Homo sapiens: one gene and its partners. The protein of the gene in region 3 purifies or fractionates together with the protein of the main gene of each other region. This does not show direct contact. Each region holds a gene or a part of one and is shown on either strand. Other genes may lie near its edges. The genes, in order: STK38L, NRBP2, LANCL1, UNC45A, C2orf76 and OCIAD1.

Region 1 (3,500 bases), on a different chromosome or scaffold from region 3:
AACTTTTAAAATTCCTTGAAAATAAAAGAATGTCTGCAGGTGCCTTTTTTAGTGGGATAATGTCCCACTAAACTCTAAAAGAATATATTTCGTTTCCAGGTGCACTTATTCTGATTTTTTTGCAGTTTGACATTTTCCTCAGCAGTTAATTCTAGAAGTTGAGTGGTAGATATTACTTCATTATCAGCTCTTTTGTGATTTGATTTCACATGGTCTCTGCCTTAAAACCATTAAAAGTCATGAAACTTCTGCTATGCAATAGCACTTTTATTTGTCCCAAGATGTGGTTAGAAATATACTGGGTAGATCATAAAATGCAAACTCAGGAAAGCTAGCTGGGCATGGTGGCTCATGCCTGTAATCCCAGTACTTTGGGAGGCCAAGGCAGGCAGATAGCTTGAAACCAGGAGTTTGAGACCAGCCTGGCCAACATGGCAAAACCCCATCTCTACTAAAAATACAAAAATTAGCTGGGTGTGGTGGTGCACACCTGTAATCTCAGCTACTTGGGTGGCTGAGGCATGAAAACTGTTTGAACCCAGGAGGCGGAGGTTGCAGTGAGCCATGATCACACCACTGCACTCCAACCCAGGCAACAGAGTGAGACTCTGTCTCCAAAAAAAAAAAAAAAAAAGTAAAAAAAGCAGGAAAGCTTTTACAAGGTATTCCACCTTTGAGGCATTTTCAATAATAATATATTTGACTATCCTTTATTTAGGTGACATGATGACATTGCTAATGAAGAAAGACACCTTGACAGAAGAGGAAACACAGTTCTACATTTCAGAGACTGTTCTGGCAATAGATGCGATCCACCAGTTGGGTTTCATCCATCGGGATATTAAGCCAGACAACCTTTTATTGGATGCCAAGGCATGTGAATAAACTGGTGAATTACTAGGCTGTTGATTATTTTTTAGAGCAGTAGGGCTGATTTTGTGAATGGAAATCAGCAACTGCAATTTAGAATATTGCTAAACAACATTATATGATAAGGTACTAGGAGAGGACTTGGGAATTAAATGACAACAGGGAATATGGCTCTCTTTTTATCTCCCTCCATTTTCTACTTTTAAAAATCATCATCAGATACTTAAAATTTTACATTTTACGTGTATAAATCCCAAGCTAAGAATTTTTATTATAATTGCCATTTAATAGAGGAGTTTATAACAAGGCTTTTTGTTTTCAAAGTTAATATGATCTAATTTTACTGGATTTTTTTTTAGGGTCATGTAAAATTATCTGATTTTGGTTTATGTACGGGATTAAAGAAAGCTCACAGGACTGAATTTTATAGAAATCTCACACACAACCCACCAAGTGACTTCTGTAAGTTTGGTTGTTGTTTTTCTTCTTTCCCCTGGTTAAGATACTGTAGAGAACAGAAGGTTCTTTCCCTTTCCCCACTCCTTAATCCACTGTGTTTTAGATGTATATGTATTTTCTTTTTGTGGAGAGCATTTTTCCCTCGTGATTACAATTCCATATTGTTGAAATTAGCATTTCAGAACATGAACTCAAAGAGGAAAGCAGAAACTTGGAAGAAGAACAGGAGACAACTGGTGAGTCAACCAGTTTTTAAGAGAATTTTATGCCTTGGTTCTAAAATCTTACCTGGTTTTAACTTGATTATTTTTATCTTTATAATAATTAGTATTTACTTCATAACAATGGTAGCGCTTGCTCTGGGATCACACAGTTTTCTTAGTTTCTCTGTTAAGTTTCCTTGCCTGTAAAGCAAAGTGTTGGTTTTTACTTTGTAACTTTAGAGTAGTTTACTGAGCATACCTACAAGTAAGCTGTTTACTAGTAATTAGCACTTTAAATAAAACTCACTGAGGTGAATGCAATTGTAATGAATGCCTTGTGATTTCCATTTTTCCATTTTTCATAACTGTGTTACAAATCCTGATACAACAAATATCAATCAGCAAGTAAGGTGGTTGTGAGTTTCTAAAAACTTCTTTATAGACAAAGTAAACAGGAAGTTTGGGATGTAAACAGTGTTACAATAAAACAGATAAAATTTGAAAAAGCTGGCTTTGCCACAGATAAATTTAATTACTCCTTTAATATAGAATTACATTATTTTTAACCCCATACTATTTCCTTTCTATAACTGAGCAAATAGAAGAATTGCTTCCCCTTTCTCCTCTTTCCCTTTGTCCTGTTAACATGGTCCATCAACAGTCTACAGGTTAAGAATGTGCCTTAGGATTTTCTTTTTCTCATTTCTTATAAAATGCCTGGCACATACGGACACTCTATAAATACTTGTTCAACCAAATGATGAAAGGAAAACTAATTCAGCATTCCCTCAGGAAAGTAAACAGACTGAAAAATAATAGGCTAATACCCTCTAAAACCAAATAAAATGACCTTTGCATTATTGAGCTTATTATCTCATTAACCTAAGTAACTGCAAAAACTTGTAAAACATTTCAGTATTTTTAAATGTATTGAGTTACACATTAAGGAGAAAAACTTTGTTCTACTTTTAAAATGTGTCCATTTTAGATCAGGTTTTGCAATTGAGAATAATTGCAATATTCCCTATTTTTAAAGGGGAAAAACTGAATACTGCTCAAAATTATGGTGGGGGAATTCTGTACCCCCCTATTTACAAAATATTCATGGGTGATTACTCAGGTGTGTGTTTTATTATTCTCATGGCCAGTAGTTGCCAAGCCTTAGATCGAGTGTTTCCCAAGGGAGAAGTAGAGAGGACTCAGTGTTTGGGGCAGGAAATTTCTTTAGCACCTGGATCCCCTGCCCTGTAAATGCCAGTTATGTCACTGAGATGACAAAATCTGTGGTCCTACATTTTGCCATGGCCCCAAGAGTACTACCCCTGGTTGAGAATTACTGCCTTGTAGAAATCATTTTTGTAAGATTTTATATGAATTAAGAATTAAAAACTGCATAGCTTCCTAAAGGATAAGCAGTACCCTGGAATTACATTTATAATGAAAATACCTCATGCTTATTTTTGTAGTTTGTAGTTTACAAAACACATGCCGTTTATTGTTTCATCTTCATATCAACTCTATTAGGGCAGGTATTATTATTCTAGTTTTATGTAAGCAGAAGCTGAGCCTCAGAGAAATTGAATAATTTGCCCAAGAACACATTAGTAGTGAGTGGGGAAGCCAGGTCTTCTAGGTTCAACTTTTTCATTCTTTTTGAAATAGACTGAAGGCTATATATATAAATAACTTAACTGAGCTTCTTGTGGGGGCAGAAATGATATATTCTTATAAAATGCCTGGCACATATGGACACTCTATAAATATTTGTTCAACTAAGTGATGAAAGGAAAACTAATTCAGCATTCCCTCAGGAAAGTAAATAGACTGAAAAATAGTAGTCTATAACATATTATCTGACTCACTACCTACCACTAAGCCTTGCACATGATAAACATGCAAAATAAATACAAGTGAAAATTTAACTCCTCTATATATTGCTTTTTCCAGTAGTAAGCCATCCTCAGATAG
Region 2 (2,446 bases), on a different chromosome or scaffold from region 3:
CCGTCTCCTGAGAGTGGGGCTGACCCTGCCTTGGGCGCCGAGGGGTTGGGGGGTGGGTGTGGGGGAGCCGTTAGGCCTCCCAGGTCCTTAGGATCAGGGTTGCCCCCAGAACCCCTTCCCATATCCTCCATTCTCCGCCCTGAGTTCCTACCCAGGCTGCCTGGCCGGGGCCACTGCCTCCTCAGCATGCAGGAGGCTGCCCTGTAGGGAACCCCAGCTCTGGGGCTTGGGGGTGAGGGTCAGCCCTGGACAGACCTCTGCCCAGGGAACTGCTCCATGGGGTCTGGGAGAGCAGCCATCCCCTGCTGGCACCATAGACCCACACAAGGAGCCTGCACAGCAAGCCAGCGGTGACACACCTGCAGGTGTCAGGCATGGCACTGGGCACAACAGGGACCTGGCAGGAGAAACAGACCACAGAGAGGTCTGGAGTTGAGGCTGTTGTCAGCAAAGCCCCTGGTCCCACACAGCTCTGCCCTAGAGCCACCTCTTTGACCCTTTACCCACCCTGAGACCAGAACTTGCAGCCCCTCTGCAGATCTCCTCTGGCCACTGCAGCCCCTCCAATGGGCTTTTTCTCTCATGCATTCCCTGGCCTGGAGGCGTCAGGGACCCCACATCCTCCCTGCTCCTCAGACTCACAGCCCCTCCATGTTACCTCCCGCACCTCCTCCCTGGGGCAGCTGCTCCCTGGGCCTCTGAGGATGTCAGCTCCTGGCTCCCTGCCTCTCTCCCACTCCACTCCTGGCTCAGTCTTAGAGATTTCTATGCCCTCATGGATTCTACCCCTGCCTTCCTGGCCTCTTGATTCTTGGCTTGCCTCTCCTCCAATTCCAAACTTAGTGAAATGGCCTTAAGCATTTTAAACTGTATGTATACATTAGCGCATTCATGCCTTTCTAAACGCATTTCAAATGTCAACCAGGAAGGCACACCACTGTATTAGTTTTATACTGCCGCTGTAAAATTTACCACAAACTTAGTGACTTAACACAAATTTATTGCAATTCTGTAGGCTGGAAGTCTGACTATGGGTCTCACTGGACTAGAATCAAGGCTGGCAGGCTGCCTTCCTTCCTGGAGGTTCTAGGGGAGACTCTGTCTCCTGCTCCTTCAGGCTGCTGGCAGAATCCACATCCTTTCGGTGGCAGGGCCAAGGTCCCCACTTTCTTGCTGACTGTAAACTAAGGCCACTTCCAGCTTGTAGAGGCTGCCTACATTCCTTGGCTCTTGGCCCCCTCCTCCATCTTCAGAGCTAGCAGGTTCAGTCTGTGTCACGAACCATTTCTCTGGTTCCCTGCAGACAGGAAAGGTTGTCCCTAAGGACTCATGAGATTAGGTTGGGCCCAGCCAGATAATACATGATAATCTCCCTCCTCAAGGTTTTTAATATTAAACACATCTGCAGGACACATTTTGCCATGTAAACTAACATTCACTGGTTCCAGGGATTAAGGAATGAACCTCTTTTGTTGGGGAAGGGTGGCATTCTGCTGACCACAGCACTCCAACCAAAAGCCAAAAACCAAAGCAAGACTTACTAACGCATATCAAATAAATTAAAGGTACAAAATCGTGAATCTCAGTTATCTTAAATATTCCAATACTATTTACAAAATTATTCAAATTCTCACGCCTTCCAACTCAAAATTAGCAATCTAAAGTAATTTCCATATCCTAGATGGAAACCCTCATGCTAAACTGTCTGATTATGCATGGTTCTAAATGGTTTCAGTGGCAAATACATAACATTGTACTACTGATTAAACTGAACTTAAAAGCATCAATACCACCATTGCTGCACTTAATCATGTCTCTGTTGAATTTTTCCTTTTAAATTTTATCTTTTCAGAATTATATATGTATTGTTTTTAAAGTAGAATAGTTTTTTTTTTGAGGCCAATAATAAATAATAAATGCAGGCTCCTACTCTGATCCTCTCCAAATTCAACTCTCTTAACTGTTTCTTCAGGCATTTGAAATCCATGTTTTTCAAAACCATGAGCATGCTTTTAGTCCTGTTTATTCGTTTTTCTACATTAGATGTCCCTGGCTGGCATCCTCTGGGAGGAGGGCGGTCACCTGCCTCAGTCTCCTGGCGGCATCATTCCAGTGTTACGGGCATCATAGCTGCATGGGTGTTATTACAGCTTCATTACCACACGTCTCAGGAGAGAACACGGTGTTCTAGGATGGCATTTCTTGCACAACTTTTTGTTTTCCCTGGAGTTAATAATTGCCTTTTTTTTGGTTTGCCTAGTTTTCTATATGTGTTTGTCATTGATTCATCTTTAGACTTTCCTGAAGAAGCATGAGCATCCTGTCACAGCTTAGGACTCATCACATAACTGACTGCTCAGTTTCTTCTTTTCCTGGAGCCCCCACCATACAAGCCCCCTGCCCAGGCTACTTGTTCTTGGACTTACAGCCCAGTGGTCAGCATGGG
Region 3 (3,500 bases):
AATAATGTGGCATTTAGATCAGTCCTAAATCCTCTGCAAAAAGACTTGATCTAGAGGCATGCTGTAGTTTGGAATCTAGATTCCAGGTCTCTTAACTTGTTAGTATCCTTTTTCTATTGAAAATACCACCTATCTCTTCTCTAAATGTAATAACGAAAGTCATGCTTGGTTTGTCCAGTGCATCTCTTTGTGACTTTTAAAGCTTGTTTTATATATTGAAACCATGAGAAACTTCTCTTACACTCACATTCATAGGCATTGACTTAGGAAAATTATTTATATGTATGTAGATAGCAATTAATATTGAAAAACAATATATACAAAATGCCGAGCACAGTGGCTCATGCCTGTTATCCCAGCACTTTGGGAGGCCAAGGTGGGCGGATCATCTGAGGTCAGGAATTCAAAACCAGCCTGGCCAACATGGTGAAACCCCGTCTTTACTAAAAACACAAAAATTAGCCAGGCGTGGTGACAGGCATCTGTAATCCCAAGTACTTGGGAGGCTGAGACAGGACAATCACTTGAACCCGGGAGGTGGAGGTTGCAGGGAGCCAAGATCGCACCATTGCACTTCAGCCTGGGTGACAAGAGTGAAACTCCATCTCAAAAAAAAAAAAAAAAAAGAAAGAAAAACCATATATACAAAAGGCCCTAAGAGTTAACTGATAGCAATTTTACTTTGTCCCATTGTTTAAAATTTTTAAATGAAATCACAAAAGCTTAAAATAAAGGCATCCAATAGGTGGAAAAATTGGATGAAATCCAAAACCTCTTAATGACCTTCCATTTCCCCTTAGCCATGCTTTTTTTCTGGTTTAAATATACTGAGACCTAGGAAGGTTTATTTGCTTCAGCAGAACTAATAATTTCCTTCTCATTTTTAGCCCAGCCTTCAAGTGAGCCAAGGGAAGTTACATAGTTTGGTCAAGCCCAGTGTAGACTACGTCTGCCAGCTGAAATTCCCTTCTGGCAATTACCCTCCATGTATAGGTGATAATCGAGATCTGCTTGTCCATTGGTGCCATGGCGCCCCTGGGGTAATCTACATGCTCATCCAGGCCTATAAGGTACTGTGTGTATTTTTGAAATAAATTTTTTTAAATAACCAAAAATTTATAATTTAAAATTAGTTTTATCCTAATCCATAAAGGAACAATAAATAAATCTCTTGTGGGACCTAAGATCACTTTACTAAATGAATTATAATTCATTCTCACCATCTATCTGTACCATAGCAGCCATTGTTTCATATCCTACTTTTAACAACACTTAGGTTGCAATGAGATATTGTTTATGATCCAGCATATTATCTAGCAATTCCACTCCTAGGTGTGTACTCGAAAGAACCAAAACCAAGCATTCATAACGGCATTATTTATAATTGCCACAGGTGAAAATAATCCAAGTATTCATCAACAGATGAATTGATAAAATGTCATATATACAATGGAACATATCACAATGCAATGGATTATTATTCTGCTATTAAAAGAATGACTTTCTGATACATATTACAACATGGATGAACCTTGAAAACATGCTAAGTGAAATAAATAGATATAAAAGGACAAATATTGTATGATTCCATTGTAGTGCATAAATAACACTAATAGAAAGCATGCCTTCACAGAACTGCAATCAACGCAGATTTTTAGTTGAGAAAAAAAAAGATATCTATGACCATTGGTGCCAAATCAACAAATTACAACTCTGCAGACTATCGCTGGGCGCTGGCATCTCATAAATAAGCTTTTAGTGTATCATATTCTACATTTCAGAGAATTAGATATGTTAATAATAGAAAAACTTTTTAAACTGCCTTATCCTACTTTTAAGAACACTTAGGTTGCAATGAGATATTAAAAATATCTACTCAGAATATTTCCTAAGTCTTTGATGAAGATATAGGAGGCAGTAAAAGATTGTAAAGGTCTATCTCTATTTTTCTGACTGCATATTTAATAAAGAACAGTTGTTCTTCTCCAGTGTGTAAAGAAACTTCCTAATAGTGAAGAGGGCATCAGAGTTACAAAGAAGATAGCATGTGTTCTTTGGAAAGTCACTCATGATAAGAGCAAGTTGCAAGTTAAATAATGCTGCTTCCTCAGTAACACCCACATAAACATACACACATGTGCAGAAAACTTAGACTGTACATGCCAAAGTCATGCACAGTTTTTTTTAAAGCCAAACTAGTCGATTTTAGTAATTGTCACTAGCAACATAACACATCCCTCTGTCACTAAATCCTTTACCCTTTCTTGCCAAGCCATCTCCCTCTTTCCTTCTTATCTATCAGGAAGGAATATCAATGGAACTTTCTTTTATATCCCGTATAATAAAATGTGTCCTTTGCCTCTGCAGGTATTCAGAGAGGAAAAGTATCTCTGTGATGCCTATCAGTGTGCTGATGTGATCTGGCAATATGGGTTGCTGAAGAAGGGATATGGGCTGTGCCACGGTTCTGCAGGGAATGCCTATGCCTTCCTGACACTCTACAACCTCACACAGGACATGAAGTACCTGTATAGGGCCTGTAAGGTAGGAGTCAGAACCACCAAATAGAAAGCAGCTCGGTGGCTCACACCTGTAAATCTCAGCACTTTGGGAGGCTGAGGCAGGCGGATCACCTGAGGTCAGGAGTTCGAGACCAGCCTGGCTAACATGGTCTACTAAAATGACAAAAAATTAGCCAGGTGTGGTGGCAGGCGCCTATAATCCCAGCTACTTTGGAGGCTGAGGCACAAGAATCACTTGAACCCGGGAGGCAGAGGTTGCAGTGAGCCAAGATCACACCATTGTACTCCAGCCTGGGTGACAAGAGTGAAACTCCATCTCAAAAAAAAAAAAAAAAAAAAAAAAAGCAGGTCTCCCAGGAGGTTGTAGAAAGAGTTCTAGTTCATCTGATTTAATTCATTTATCCCTAAAACCATAGGTCTTGGATAACAAATACAGTTATTTAAGGAAAACCTTGAAAAGCCTTTCAATTAAATTAGCATTCCTTTAAAGGGACATAATTCTACTCAACAGCATTAATGGGAGAAAAAAATAAAGATGTAGGGTGATTTTGTGCCTTTCTTCTTGAATAACCTTGTAGATACGTGACTCAGACAGCTCATTAAATTCCTCCCATGCTGTGTACTCTTTCAAACCATCCTTTTCTCTGCATTAATCTCCTTTCTCTGATGTGAAGGTAGTGTTTGATTTTTCAGAGTAATTTGTATAGACAACCTCTTAACTTTTGGGGTTGTCTCTGGAAGAAATCACTATACTAATTTAACTTGGTCTCATTTTCAGTTTGCTGAATGGTGCTTAGAGTATGGAGAACATGGATGCAGAACACCAGACACCCCTTTCTCTCTCTTTGAAGGTATTTTGTACACTTTATTTATTTGCCCTATAATATCAGCATCTACTTCTCTGCTTGGTAATTAATGTATTTAAGTTTTAGCAAAAAATTTTATAATTATTCTTAAACTACTTTTTTATTTCCTAAT
Region 4 (3,500 bases), on a different chromosome or scaffold from region 3:
GCACCCCAAGGTGAGGGGCCGCCAGAGGGGCTAGAGGGTTCCCCACCATGGGGACAGCTAACCCAGGGCATCCACAGCAGAACAACCTCCCTTTTTTTTTTTTTTTTTTTTTGAGATGGAGTCTCACTGTCTCCCAGGCTGGAGTGCAGTGATGCGATCTCGGCTCACTGCAAGCTCCGCCTCCCGGGTTCATGCCATTCTCCTGCCTCAGCCTCCCGAGTAGCTGGGACTACAGGTGCCCGCCACCATGCCTGGCTAATTTTTTGTATTTTTAGTGGAGACAGTGTTTCACCGTGTTAGCCAGGATGATCTCGATCTCCTGACCTCGTGATCCGCCTGCCTCAGCCTCCCAAAGTGCTGGGATTACAGGTGTGAGCCACCGTGCCCAGCCAACAGCCTCCCTTTTAAGCCAGTTTGTTTCCTTTTGTCTGGCTGTTTTATTTCCCAGTTCCTCAATTACTGCTGTGAGAAGGGTCCCCCTTTCTCTGTGAGTCAGCCTAGGCCCCTCTCCTAAGCTGCCTCCTCCCCCAGGACAAGCCAAGCTTCGTGCGGGCTCGGGTGAAGAAGCTGCTGGCAGCGGGTGTGGTGTCGGCCATGGTGTGCATGGTGAAGACGGAGAGCCCTGTGCTGACCAGTTCCTGCAGAGAGCTGCTCTCCAGGTGAGCCAGCCTTGGTAGGAGCCAACCTTTCCCAACTCCTGAGCCTCAGGGCTGCAGATGTGGCTCCAGAGGGTGCAGGTTCCAGTGCTGTGGGCCTCTTAGAGCGACGGGGGCTGCCTGCGTGGCTGCCGTCTTTGCTGAGCCTAGGAGTGCAGCGTCTGCCTGCCAGAGTCCCAGAGCTGCCTGCCCACCACCGCCTTCTCCCCACAGGGTCTTCTTGGCTTTAGTGGAAGAGGTAGAGGACCGAGGCACTGTGGTTGCCCAGGGAGGCGGCAGGGTAAGCTGGTTTACACACCCCTTCCTGATGGCTGAGCCATCAGCCTATAAAACATGACTCAGCAGCTGCCACGCCAGAGCTGGGTGTTAGATATGGAACAGAAAAACATTAATGGCCAGAGGAACACCGTCCCGCTGAGAGAGTGACGCGGAAGCAGGCAAGCTCCTTGGCCCCTCCACACTGGTGCCTGTGAAGGTCCTAGGCTCTACTGTTCCTTTGTCTCATTTACCCCCATGGCCCTGGTGCTCAGCACAATCCATGTCCAGCCCTTATTAGGTGTTTCAGGAAGTGTTTGGATGCAGAGGGTCTGCACAGGGAGTCAAGCCTGGGGAGAGGGAGGAAGGTGAGGGTGGCACGGTCAGGGCTGGGGAGCCCGATGGTCGGGGTCTTACTCCCAGGGATGTCCTGAGCAGTGACGGGCTTGTTCCTACAGGCGCTGATCCCGCTGGCCCTGGAAGGCACGGACGTGGGGCAGACAAAGGCAGCCCAGGCCCTTGCCAAGCTCACCATCACCTCCAACCCGGAGATGACCTTCCCTGGCGAGCGGGTACGTGTCTTCCTGCCCCGGCCTTTCCACTCCCTCTGTCCCTGATGGCCTGTGGGCTGGGCTGTAGCTCCCCTTTGGGACCAGCAGGAAGTTTCAGCTTTGTCAAGGCCTGGGGCAGGGAGGACAGCCTGAGACAGCAGTACTCTCTTGGGGGTGGGCTTCTCCCTGCAGGGTTGGTGGGGCTTGTGGGGGCTGCGGCAAGTACCCCTGACAGGTGGGGTGCACATTGCAGATCTATGAGGTGGTCCGGCCCCTCGTCTCCCTGTTGCACCTCAACTGCTCAGGCCTGCAGAACTTCGAGGCGCTCATGGCCCTAACAAACCTGGCTGGGATCAGCGAGAGGCTCCGGTAAGGTCCCTTGGGATTGCGGGGCCTGGACCAGGCATCGGGATTCGGAATATCCCCCACAGCAGTTTACACATTGGGAAACACTCCTTGGTCATGGGCTTCTGTGAGCCTCACAGTGACTGCTCCGCATCATTAGAGAGGAGGCGACAGGCCAAGAGGCAGCACGGCACGGCAGACTCTAGAGTCAGACTGCCTCGCTTCCCTGATTGCAAATGGGCAACCTCAAGCAAGTTACTTAACTGCTCTGTCTCAGTTTCTCCCTCTGTGAAATGGGATGATTATAGTACCTACCTCATGGCATAGTGATGAGGAGAATAAAATGAGAAAATACACCTAAAAGTACTTACTACATGGGTACCTGGCCCCTAGCATTGTGCCATATCAGTATATTTTAGTTTTTTTTTTTCTTTGAGACGGAGTCTTGCTCTGTCACCCAGCCTAGAGGGCAGTGGCATGATCTCAGCTCACCGCAACCTCTGCCTCCCAGGTTCAAGCGATTCTCCTGCCTCAGCCTCCTGAGTAGCTGGGATTATAGGCACGTGCTACCGCGCCTGGCTAATTTTTGTATTTTTGTAGAGATGGCGCTTTACCATGTTGGTCAGGCTGGTCTAGATCTCCTGACCTCGTGATCCGCCCACCTCAGCCTCCCAAAGTGCTGGGATTACAGGTGTGAGCCACTGCAGCTGGCCAGCATGTTTTAGTTTTATTACTAACTGTGACTTTGAACATATTACTCATTACTTAGCCCGTTTCCTATTCTGCAAAACAGTAGTGATGATGATCACACTTGCACCTTTAGTATAGGGCCATGGTGAGAATTAAGTAAGATGATCCAGGTGCCTGGTCAGGGTAAATACTCAAATGAGGCCGGGCGTGGTGGCTCACACCTGTAATCCTGGCAATTTGGGAGGATGAGGCAGGAGGATCACTGGAGCCCAGAAGTTCAGGCCAGCCTGAGCAGTGTAGCAATACCTCGTCCCTATTTAAAAAAGAAATTAAAGAGAATATCAGGAAGAATAGCTAATGCATGCTGGGCTTAATACCTGGGTGATGGGATGATCTGTGCGGTAAACCACAACGGCACATGGTTACCTGTGTAACAAACCTGCACGTCCTGCACATGTACCCCTGAACTTAACAGTTGGAAAAAAAATTTGCAAGGTGTGGTGGCGTGCACCTGTAGTCCCAGCTACTCGAGAGGCTGAGGCAGGAGGATCACTTGAGCCTGGGGGGGTCAAGGCTACAGCAGTGAGCTGTGATCATGCCACTTTACTCCAGCCTAGGTGACAGAGTGAGATCCTGCCTCAAAAAAACACAGAAACAAAAACCCTCAAATGTTAGGTGTTAGCCTCACCATCACGACCACCCTGGTCTTCTACATCCTAATTTTGAGCATTTCCCACAATCCTATGCTATTTCCTAGGCCTGGTTAGAAGGCTAAGAAGCACTGTAGTTCATACCTGGTGCAAGAGGGTCCTTGGACATTGCCAAGGGAAATCCTCAGCCCAGGACTTGATTGCATGAGGGTGTGGGTGCAGGGGTGGAGCAGATGTAGAAACTCTGATGATGCTGCCGGTGTTAGTCTGTTCTTGCATTGCTGTAAAGGAATACCTGAGACTGGGTAATTTATAAAGAAAAGAGATTTAATTGCTTCCTGGCTCTACAGGCT
Region 5 (3,500 bases), about 91 Mb from region 3:
GGGTTGGTCTTGAACTCCTGAGCTCAAGTGATCCCTCTGCCTCGACCTCCCAGGATGCTGGGATTACAGGCCTAAGCCACTGTGCCTCGCCCTGGCAAGATATATTAATAAGTGAAAGCATTTCTTGCTCATTAGGTGGGAATAGTAGTTTCATATTAAGTTTCTTAGTATAAATGAAACCTCTAATTTCTGAAAGTAACCTAATCACCAGAAAATGAACTACGATTTCAGGAGAGCTTCCTAGTTGCTCTAGTAACTAGAGTTACTATAAGGCGAGGGTTAGGGTATCCACAAATGATGGATTACATTCATTCTGTATTTTCTTTCCGGTTACTTGGAATGTGACTCCTGTGGCAGGGCTTCAGCAGAGCTGGAGGAGACTAGTTTTTTTTTTTTGCCTTTTTTTTTTTTGAGACAGAGTCTTGCTCTGTCGCCCAGGCTGGAGTGTAGTGGTGCGATCTCGGCTCACTGCAAGCTCCGCCTCCCGGGTTCACGCCATTCTCCTGCCTCAGCCTCCCGAGTAGCTGGGACTATGGGTGCCCGCCACCACGCCCGGCTAATTTTTTGTATTTTGGGTAGAGACGGGGTTTCACTGTGTTAGCCAGGTTGGTCTCGATCTCCTGACCTCGTGATCCGCCCGTCTCGGCCTCCCAAAGTGCTGAGATTACAGGCGTGAGCCATGTCGCCTGGCCCAGGAGACTAGTTTTAAAGGGAAGAAGGGACTTTGGAAATGCTTCTGGATAGGATTGGGGAGGTATGGGTGGAGTTTTTTTGTGAAGGCTGAGGGAGGTGAGAGTTGGTGGGGGTGGGGTAAGAATGAAGCCTGGCTTTCCTCATAACTGGTGAGAGGAGGCCTGGCAGCTGGAGGTGTTAGCAAGTCCTGTGCCATTCCTACCCTCTCCTTCCTTTGGGTGTTCGTCTTCAGAGGAATTGTGGCAAGGCGGGCAGGAGAGAAGAGTAAACAGGTGTGGCATGCACATGTTTACCATTTTCTTCTTCCTCTTCTTTTTGCCTAGCCAACTTGGGCTGGGGGTGGTTAGGGCTGAGGTGAGCTGCAGAGATGGCTTGGGAGTGGAAGATTCTGATAGGGAAGTATCCTAGGCTGGCTGGAAGTAAGGAAGACAGGACTTCCTTTAGAATTGCTTCTCCATGAGTTGGTCATACACTGGTCAGGTGCTGCCTGCGCTCTGTTTAGAAGCATTCATGATTATGGGCAGGAATAATGAAAATATCTTGAGTTCAGTACTGAGTTCTTGTTCAACTTCATACTTTAATAAAAATGTGTTATATATTCTCTTCTAAATCTACATTGTCTTCTACATCTTTGCCTATTTAGCTCCTAGCTGCACATGACAAACCACCTGGAAAATGCCTTGAAACTAGATTGTTAGAGGTGAATTTTCTTAGTAAACTCTTCTGCCTGTCAACAAGAAAATTAGAAATACAGCTGACCCTTGAACAACACAGGGGTTAGGGGCACTGACCTTCCACACAGTCAAAAATCTGTGTGTAACTTTTGACTACCCTAAAACTTAACTATTAATAGCCTACTGTTGATTCGAAGTCTTACTGATAACAAACAGTTGATTAACACATTTTATATGTTATATGTATTATTTACTGTATTTTTAAAAGTAAACTAGAAAAGAATGTTACTAGAATCACAAGGAAGAGAAAATTATTTACTGTTCAGTAAGTGGAAGTAGATCATAAAGGTCTTCAGACTTGTCATCTTCACACTGAGTAGGCTGAGGAGGAAGAGGAAGGGTTGGTCTTTCTCAGGGATGGCAGAGGTGGAAAAAAATAGAAGTTGGACTCCTATTGTTCAAAACGCCACTGTATTAAAATCTGGTGACAAGGCTGCAGTGAGGTATAATCCTGCCACTACACTCCAGCCTAGGCAACAGGGAGAGACCCTGCCTCAAAGAAAAAAAGATCTGCTGACATGCTTTGGCTAATAATTCCTTCAAAGGGCAATGTTGTTCAAAAAAACACTATTTTGAGCTAACTATATAGATTGACGTGCGGTTATAAAAAATATAGTAGTCCCTCCTTATCCTCAGAGGCTAAATTCCAAGACCCCCCCAATGGAGGCCTGAACCCTATATATGTTTTTTCCTACATGGTTGTCTGTCAATATCTGTGGGGGATTGGTTCCATGACCTCCTATGGATGCCAAAAATCCATGGATGCTCAAGTCCCTTATATAAAATGATGTATTTGCATGTAACTTATGCACATTCTTCTGTATACTTTAAATAATCTCTAGGTTACTTATAATACTAGATACAATGTAAATGCTATATAAATAGTTGTGATACTGTATTTTACAATTTTTTTGTGTGTGTATCCGTATTTTTTTATCGTTTTCTTCCCAGGATATTTTCACCTGAAGTTGGTTGAGTCTGCAAAGGCAGAACCCACAGATATGGAGGGCTGACTGTACATACATATCTATAATAAAATTTGAGTTTTAAATTAGGCACAGTAAGAGAGTAACAAAATAATAATAAAATTGAACAGTTATCACCATATATTGTAATAAAAGTGTGAGTGTTTACTTCTGGAATTTTTCATTTAATATTTTTGGACAGTGGTTGGCCGTGGGTAACAAACCCACGAAACCCATTTTGGGTTCAAACCATCAAAAGTGGAACTGTAAGTGAGGACTACTGTAGCCTAGAGAGATCTCTTGTACATCTTACCTAGTTTCTCCCAGTGGTAACATCTTGCAAAACCATATAGAATACATAACACAATCAATACATTGACATTGATACATTTAAGTAAGGTAACAATATTTCCATCATCAAAGATTCCTAATACTGCCTTGTGGCCACAACCACTACCTAGCTCCTCCTTAGCCCCTGGCAACCACAACTTTCTTCTCTATTTCTATAATTTTATCATTTCAATAATGTTATATATCATGAAATTGTGGTATATAGCCTTTTTGTATTGTTTTTTCTTCACTCAGAATAATTCTGTGGTGATTCATCTAGCTTGTTGAGTGAATGATAGTTTTGTTCTTTTTTATCCCTGAGTACTATTCCATCATATAGATGAAAGAGTTTAACCATTCACTCTTTGAAGGCTATTGCTATTGTTTCCACTTTTTGGCTATTATGAATTAAGCTGCTGCCAATCACTTGTCTACAGGCATACCTCAGAGATATTGCAGGTTTGGTCACAGACCACTGACATAAAATGATGATCACAGCAAAATGAGTCACAGTTTTTTGGTTTTCCAGTGCATATACAAGTTATGTTTACACTATACGTATAGTCTGTTATAAAGTGTGCAATAGCATTATGTCAAACAGGTGTATATATCTTTTTTTTTTTTTTTTTTTTTTTGAGACAGAGTTTTGCTCTCGTTGCCCAGGCTGGAGTGCAATGGTGCAGTCTCAGCTCACTGCAACTTCTGCCTCCCAGGTTCAAGCGATTCTCCTGCCCCAGCCTCCTGAATAGCTGGGATTGCAGGCATGTGCCACCACACC
Region 6 (3,500 bases), on a different chromosome or scaffold from region 3:
TATAAAATTCTGGAACAAATAATGAAAATATACATCAGACAGAAGAAGACTGGGGAGAATTTCCCACACTATGGAGAGAACATGATTTACTATTTTGGGAAGGTTATAAAGAACTGGAAGGAATAAAAAAATGTAAAGTGGCACTGATTTAAATCTAACTGTAATAAACTCTAAGTCTCCTAACAGCTCTGAAGGAGTGCTTGCTATTTTAAAAGATTAATAACTCTCTGAATTCCTGGTAAAAGAAAGCAGAACTAAAGTAGGACTTAAACCAAAGAATAAGATGCCCTGGTAGGGGAGGATAGCATCTGGGGCAAAGCAAAAGCAGGCCACTGCTGGCCCATGTGGAGAGCAGTAAAAAAGTAGCCACTTTGATTTAGAGAAGGGGGTCAGAAGGCAGAGCAGTGGATGGATGGATGGCTGCTGTGGAAGGCATAAAATAATATTAAGACATGGCCTTGCTAAGTAGTCTGTGGGTAGATACCAAAGGGCTTTTTGTTTGTTGGCTTTTGTATGGAAAAAAACTATATAACAGAATTTCCTAATGCAAATGGTGGGGAAGATGCAAGTCATCACAAGGAAAGAGTTAGTGCATGTCTAGAATACAGTAGTGCCCCCTTATCTGTGGTTTCGCTTTCCAGGGTTTCAGTTACCTGCAGTCAACCATGGTCTGAAAATATTACATGGAACATTCCAGAAATAAACAGTTCATAAATTTTAAATTACACCCTGTTCTGAGTAGTGTGATAAAATCTTGTGAGGTTCTGCTCTGGTCCATCCAGGACTTGAATCATCCCTTTGTCCAGCATATCCACACTGTCTACACTACATGCCTGTTAGTAACTTAGTAGCCATCTAGATCAAAAAAACATAGAACATAAAGGATTTGGTAATATCTGAGGTTTCAGGCATCCACAGGGGTCTTCGAACTTATCCCCCATGGATAAGGGGGGACTACTGTACAAGAAGAATGGATTTGAACTTCAGACTGGTTAAATGAGACATAGTGAGGAACAAGGACAGCTGCCTTTGGAGATAAGATAGTGACTTTAGCCATTCTCTCCTAATCTGCCCATTCCCTTCCTTCCTTTTCTGACTAATTTGATGCCTTTGCTTCCAACCATTAAAGAAAAAAATAAAAAAATCAGAGTTGAGGATTAAGAAGCTCTCAATAACTTTCATCCAAATTCTTTAATCATCTGAACTTCCATTCTTTCCTGTCTCTTCCTTTATACAAGGCTAATACTCACCCCTTTGCCCCGACTTTTGCTCTTAAGTAGTGCTGTCCAACATAACTTTCTGCAATGATGAAAATGTTCTATATTGGCACTAACACGGTAGCCACTAGCACATGTGACTATTGAGCAAGTGAAATGCTACCAAAGCAATTGAGAAATTGAATTTTAAATTTCATTTAACTTTAATTAATTTAAATAGCCACATATGGCTAGCGGCTACTCTGACCTACCTAGAACCCCCTTCTGCATTCTCTAGAACCTTCTCTGACCTATAATCAACTTCTCCCTTTCCACTGTATACCCTCCCCTCCCTTTAACTTCTTTCCCTCTAATCTTTTAAAATTTAAAGAGTATACTCTACAAAGGTCCATAATCCCTTATCCAAACCTTGGGGTCAGGTATGTTTCACTATTCAAAGTTTCTGAGGTTTTAGAAAAATACTACAGTAAATACCCCTTATATTACTTAATATCCATCCATTCAGAGGTTTAGGACAGGAATGAGTAAGCAAACACATTAATATTTCTATAATGAAATAAAGGAAAAATCTTATCTGGCAAAGTAAATAAAGTCTACGTTTATATAACTTATGTGAATTTAGGTCAGGGTATTCTGCTAAATGAATTCAGGTCAGATTTTATTACCAGTTTAATTATTAAAAAACAAAAACAGGCCGGGGGCAGTGGCTCACACCTGTAATCCCAGCACTTTGGGAGGCCGAGGCGGGCGGATCACGAGGTCAGGAGATCAAGACCATCCTGGCCAACACAGTGAAACCCCATCTCTACTAAAAATACAAAAAATTAGCCGAGCGTGGTGGCGGGCACCTGCAGTCCCAGCTACTCAGGAGACTGAGGCAGAATGGCGTGAAGCTGGGGGGGCGGAGGTTGCAGTGAGCCGAGATCGCACCACTACAGTCCAGACTGGGCGACAGAGCAAGACTCCATCTCAAAAAAAAAAAAAAAAACAAAAAACAAAAAAAAACTTGGCTTAAACCTTTTTGAATTTCAGGATTTTAGATAAAGAATTACAGACCTGTATTTCCCGTTTCTAATTCCTCATCTTTTACTGCCGACTAGACTGAAGGAAAGAAACTAATGTTTTTTGAGTCTATTATTTGCCAGACATTGCCTCTGATTATTTCCTCTAATTCCAACAGTTCATTAAGAGAGGTAGTATCATCTCCATTCAACTGATCAAGAAACTGAAAGGATCATAAAGTAGTTATAATAATATTACTACATTATTATAATGTAGTAGTAGTATTACAAGGTCACATAGCTAGCAAATGTCAATCATGATTCAAATCCAAGCCTTAATACAAAATTGATGTTGTTGCACTTACATGTGTGATCTTCAAAGCTAGTATTTACAAACTTCACAAAGCATTTTCACATGGATTTTCTCACTTGACAACAGTTCTTTCTTGTATTACAGACAGGGAAGCTGAAAGCCTTTAAAACCCAGCCTATCAAATGTAACCTTTTTATACCTTTCCTGGAGCTCTACTTCCTGAGACACGATTTATCATTTCTTCTTCACTATTCCACTAAGCTTGCCTTAGTATTTTCAATTACTGGGACATACTAGTAATTCATCCTTGTATTTCTATATCTTCTAACAGACTGAAAGTTTTTCAGGGACAAGAACCAAGTGTTATTCATCTTCTTCCACGTCTAGCAGAGTCCTTGACACCTACTGGTCCTCAAGAAAAGTTGAATGAATGAAGAAACAAATGAACAAACATGCTGAGTTTAGGTTGATGATTGATGGTAGAACACACAGGTGATATCCAGCAGAAAAGGTCATCAAATAAAGTTTATACATACGTTGGACCATAAAATGTTGAAATTCATTTCAAGAGAAGTTTCTACCTTGGACAATATGATCAGTAATACCAGTGGGAGCAGATTCATTCATAGAAGAACTGAATGGAATTGGCTCATAATGAGGAAGCATTTCTATGTTGTCTGCTGCTGGGGATGTCACAAAAGATGATTGACCACTCACACTTGAGTCATATTTTGACTTTTGATAATAGTGCCTGTAAATGAAAATCATATTGTAGTAAGAAATATGAGTCATTGCCTATATCTTAAAGAAGTGTTAAAATAACTTCTTTCATATAGCTTATTTCCAAAATTATATATACATATAATTTTTTTTATTTTTTTGAGACAGGGTCTTGCTCTGTCACCCAGGCTATAGTGCAGTGACGCAGTCTTGGCTTATTGCAATCTCCACCTCCTAGGCTCAAGCAAT

The links.
Region 1: the proteins of LANCL1 (region 3) and STK38L purify together in Homo sapiens (pull-down; one large-scale study listed by IntAct). This does not show direct contact.
Region 2: the proteins of LANCL1 (region 3) and NRBP2 purify together in Homo sapiens (affinity purification with mass spectrometry; one large-scale study listed by BioGRID and IntAct). This does not show direct contact.
Region 4: the proteins of LANCL1 (region 3) and UNC45A purify together in Homo sapiens (affinity purification with mass spectrometry, with the first as the bait; one large-scale study listed by BioGRID). This does not show direct contact.
Region 5: the proteins of LANCL1 (region 3) and C2orf76 fractionate together in Homo sapiens (co-fractionation; one large-scale study listed by BioGRID). This does not show direct contact.
Region 6: the proteins of LANCL1 (region 3) and OCIAD1 purify together in Homo sapiens (affinity purification with mass spectrometry, with the first as the bait; one large-scale study listed by BioGRID). This does not show direct contact.

What each region holds. Positions count from the first base shown.
Region 1 is NC_000012.12:27,313,786-27,317,285, forward strand, and holds part of STK38L (serine/threonine-protein kinase 38-like), read left to right. Parts: intron 1-718; coding exon 719-873; intron 874-1,229; coding exon 1,230-1,332; intron 1,333-1,503; coding exon 1,504-1,565; intron 1,566-3,500. UniProt on the Homo sapiens protein: Involved in the regulation of structural processes in differentiating and mature neuronal cells.
Region 2 is NC_000008.11:143,833,083-143,835,528, reverse strand, and holds the end of NRBP2 (nuclear receptor-binding protein 2), read left to right. Parts: coding exon of another isoform or gene 1-91; 3' UTR 92-1,946; downstream 1,947-2,446. UniProt on the Homo sapiens protein: May regulate apoptosis of neural progenitor cells during their differentiation.
Region 3 is NC_000002.12:210,435,260-210,438,759, reverse strand, and holds part of LANCL1 (glutathione S-transferase LANCL1), read left to right. Parts: intron 1-887; coding exon 888-1,070; intron 1,071-2,367; coding exon 2,368-2,544; intron 2,545-3,300; coding exon 3,301-3,373; intron 3,374-3,500. UniProt on the Homo sapiens protein: Functions as a glutathione transferase. Catalyzes conjugation of the glutathione (GSH) to artificial substrates 1-chloro-2,4-dinitrobenzene (CDNB) and p-nitrophenyl acetate.
Region 4 is NC_000015.10:90,948,785-90,952,284, forward strand, and holds part of UNC45A (protein unc-45 homolog A), read left to right. Parts: coding exon 1-10; intron 11-531; coding exon 532-659; intron 660-869; coding exon 870-936; intron 937-1,369; coding exon 1,370-1,483; intron 1,484-1,715; coding exon 1,716-1,831; intron 1,832-3,453; exon of another isoform or gene 3,454-3,500.
Region 5 is NC_000002.12:119,360,335-119,363,834, reverse strand, and holds part of C2orf76 (UPF0538 protein C2orf76), read left to right. Parts: intron 1-3,500.
Region 6 is NC_000004.12:48,851,588-48,855,087, reverse strand, and holds part of OCIAD1 (OCIA domain-containing protein 1), read right to left. Parts: intron 3,283-3,500; coding exon 3,113-3,282; coding exon of another isoform or gene 3,096-3,112; exon of another isoform or gene 2,863-3,095; intron 1-2,862. UniProt on the Homo sapiens protein: Maintains stem cell potency. Increases STAT3 phosphorylation and controls ERK phosphorylation. May act as a scaffold, increasing STAT3 recruitment onto endosomes. Involved in integrin-mediated cancer cell adhesion and colony formation in ovarian cancer.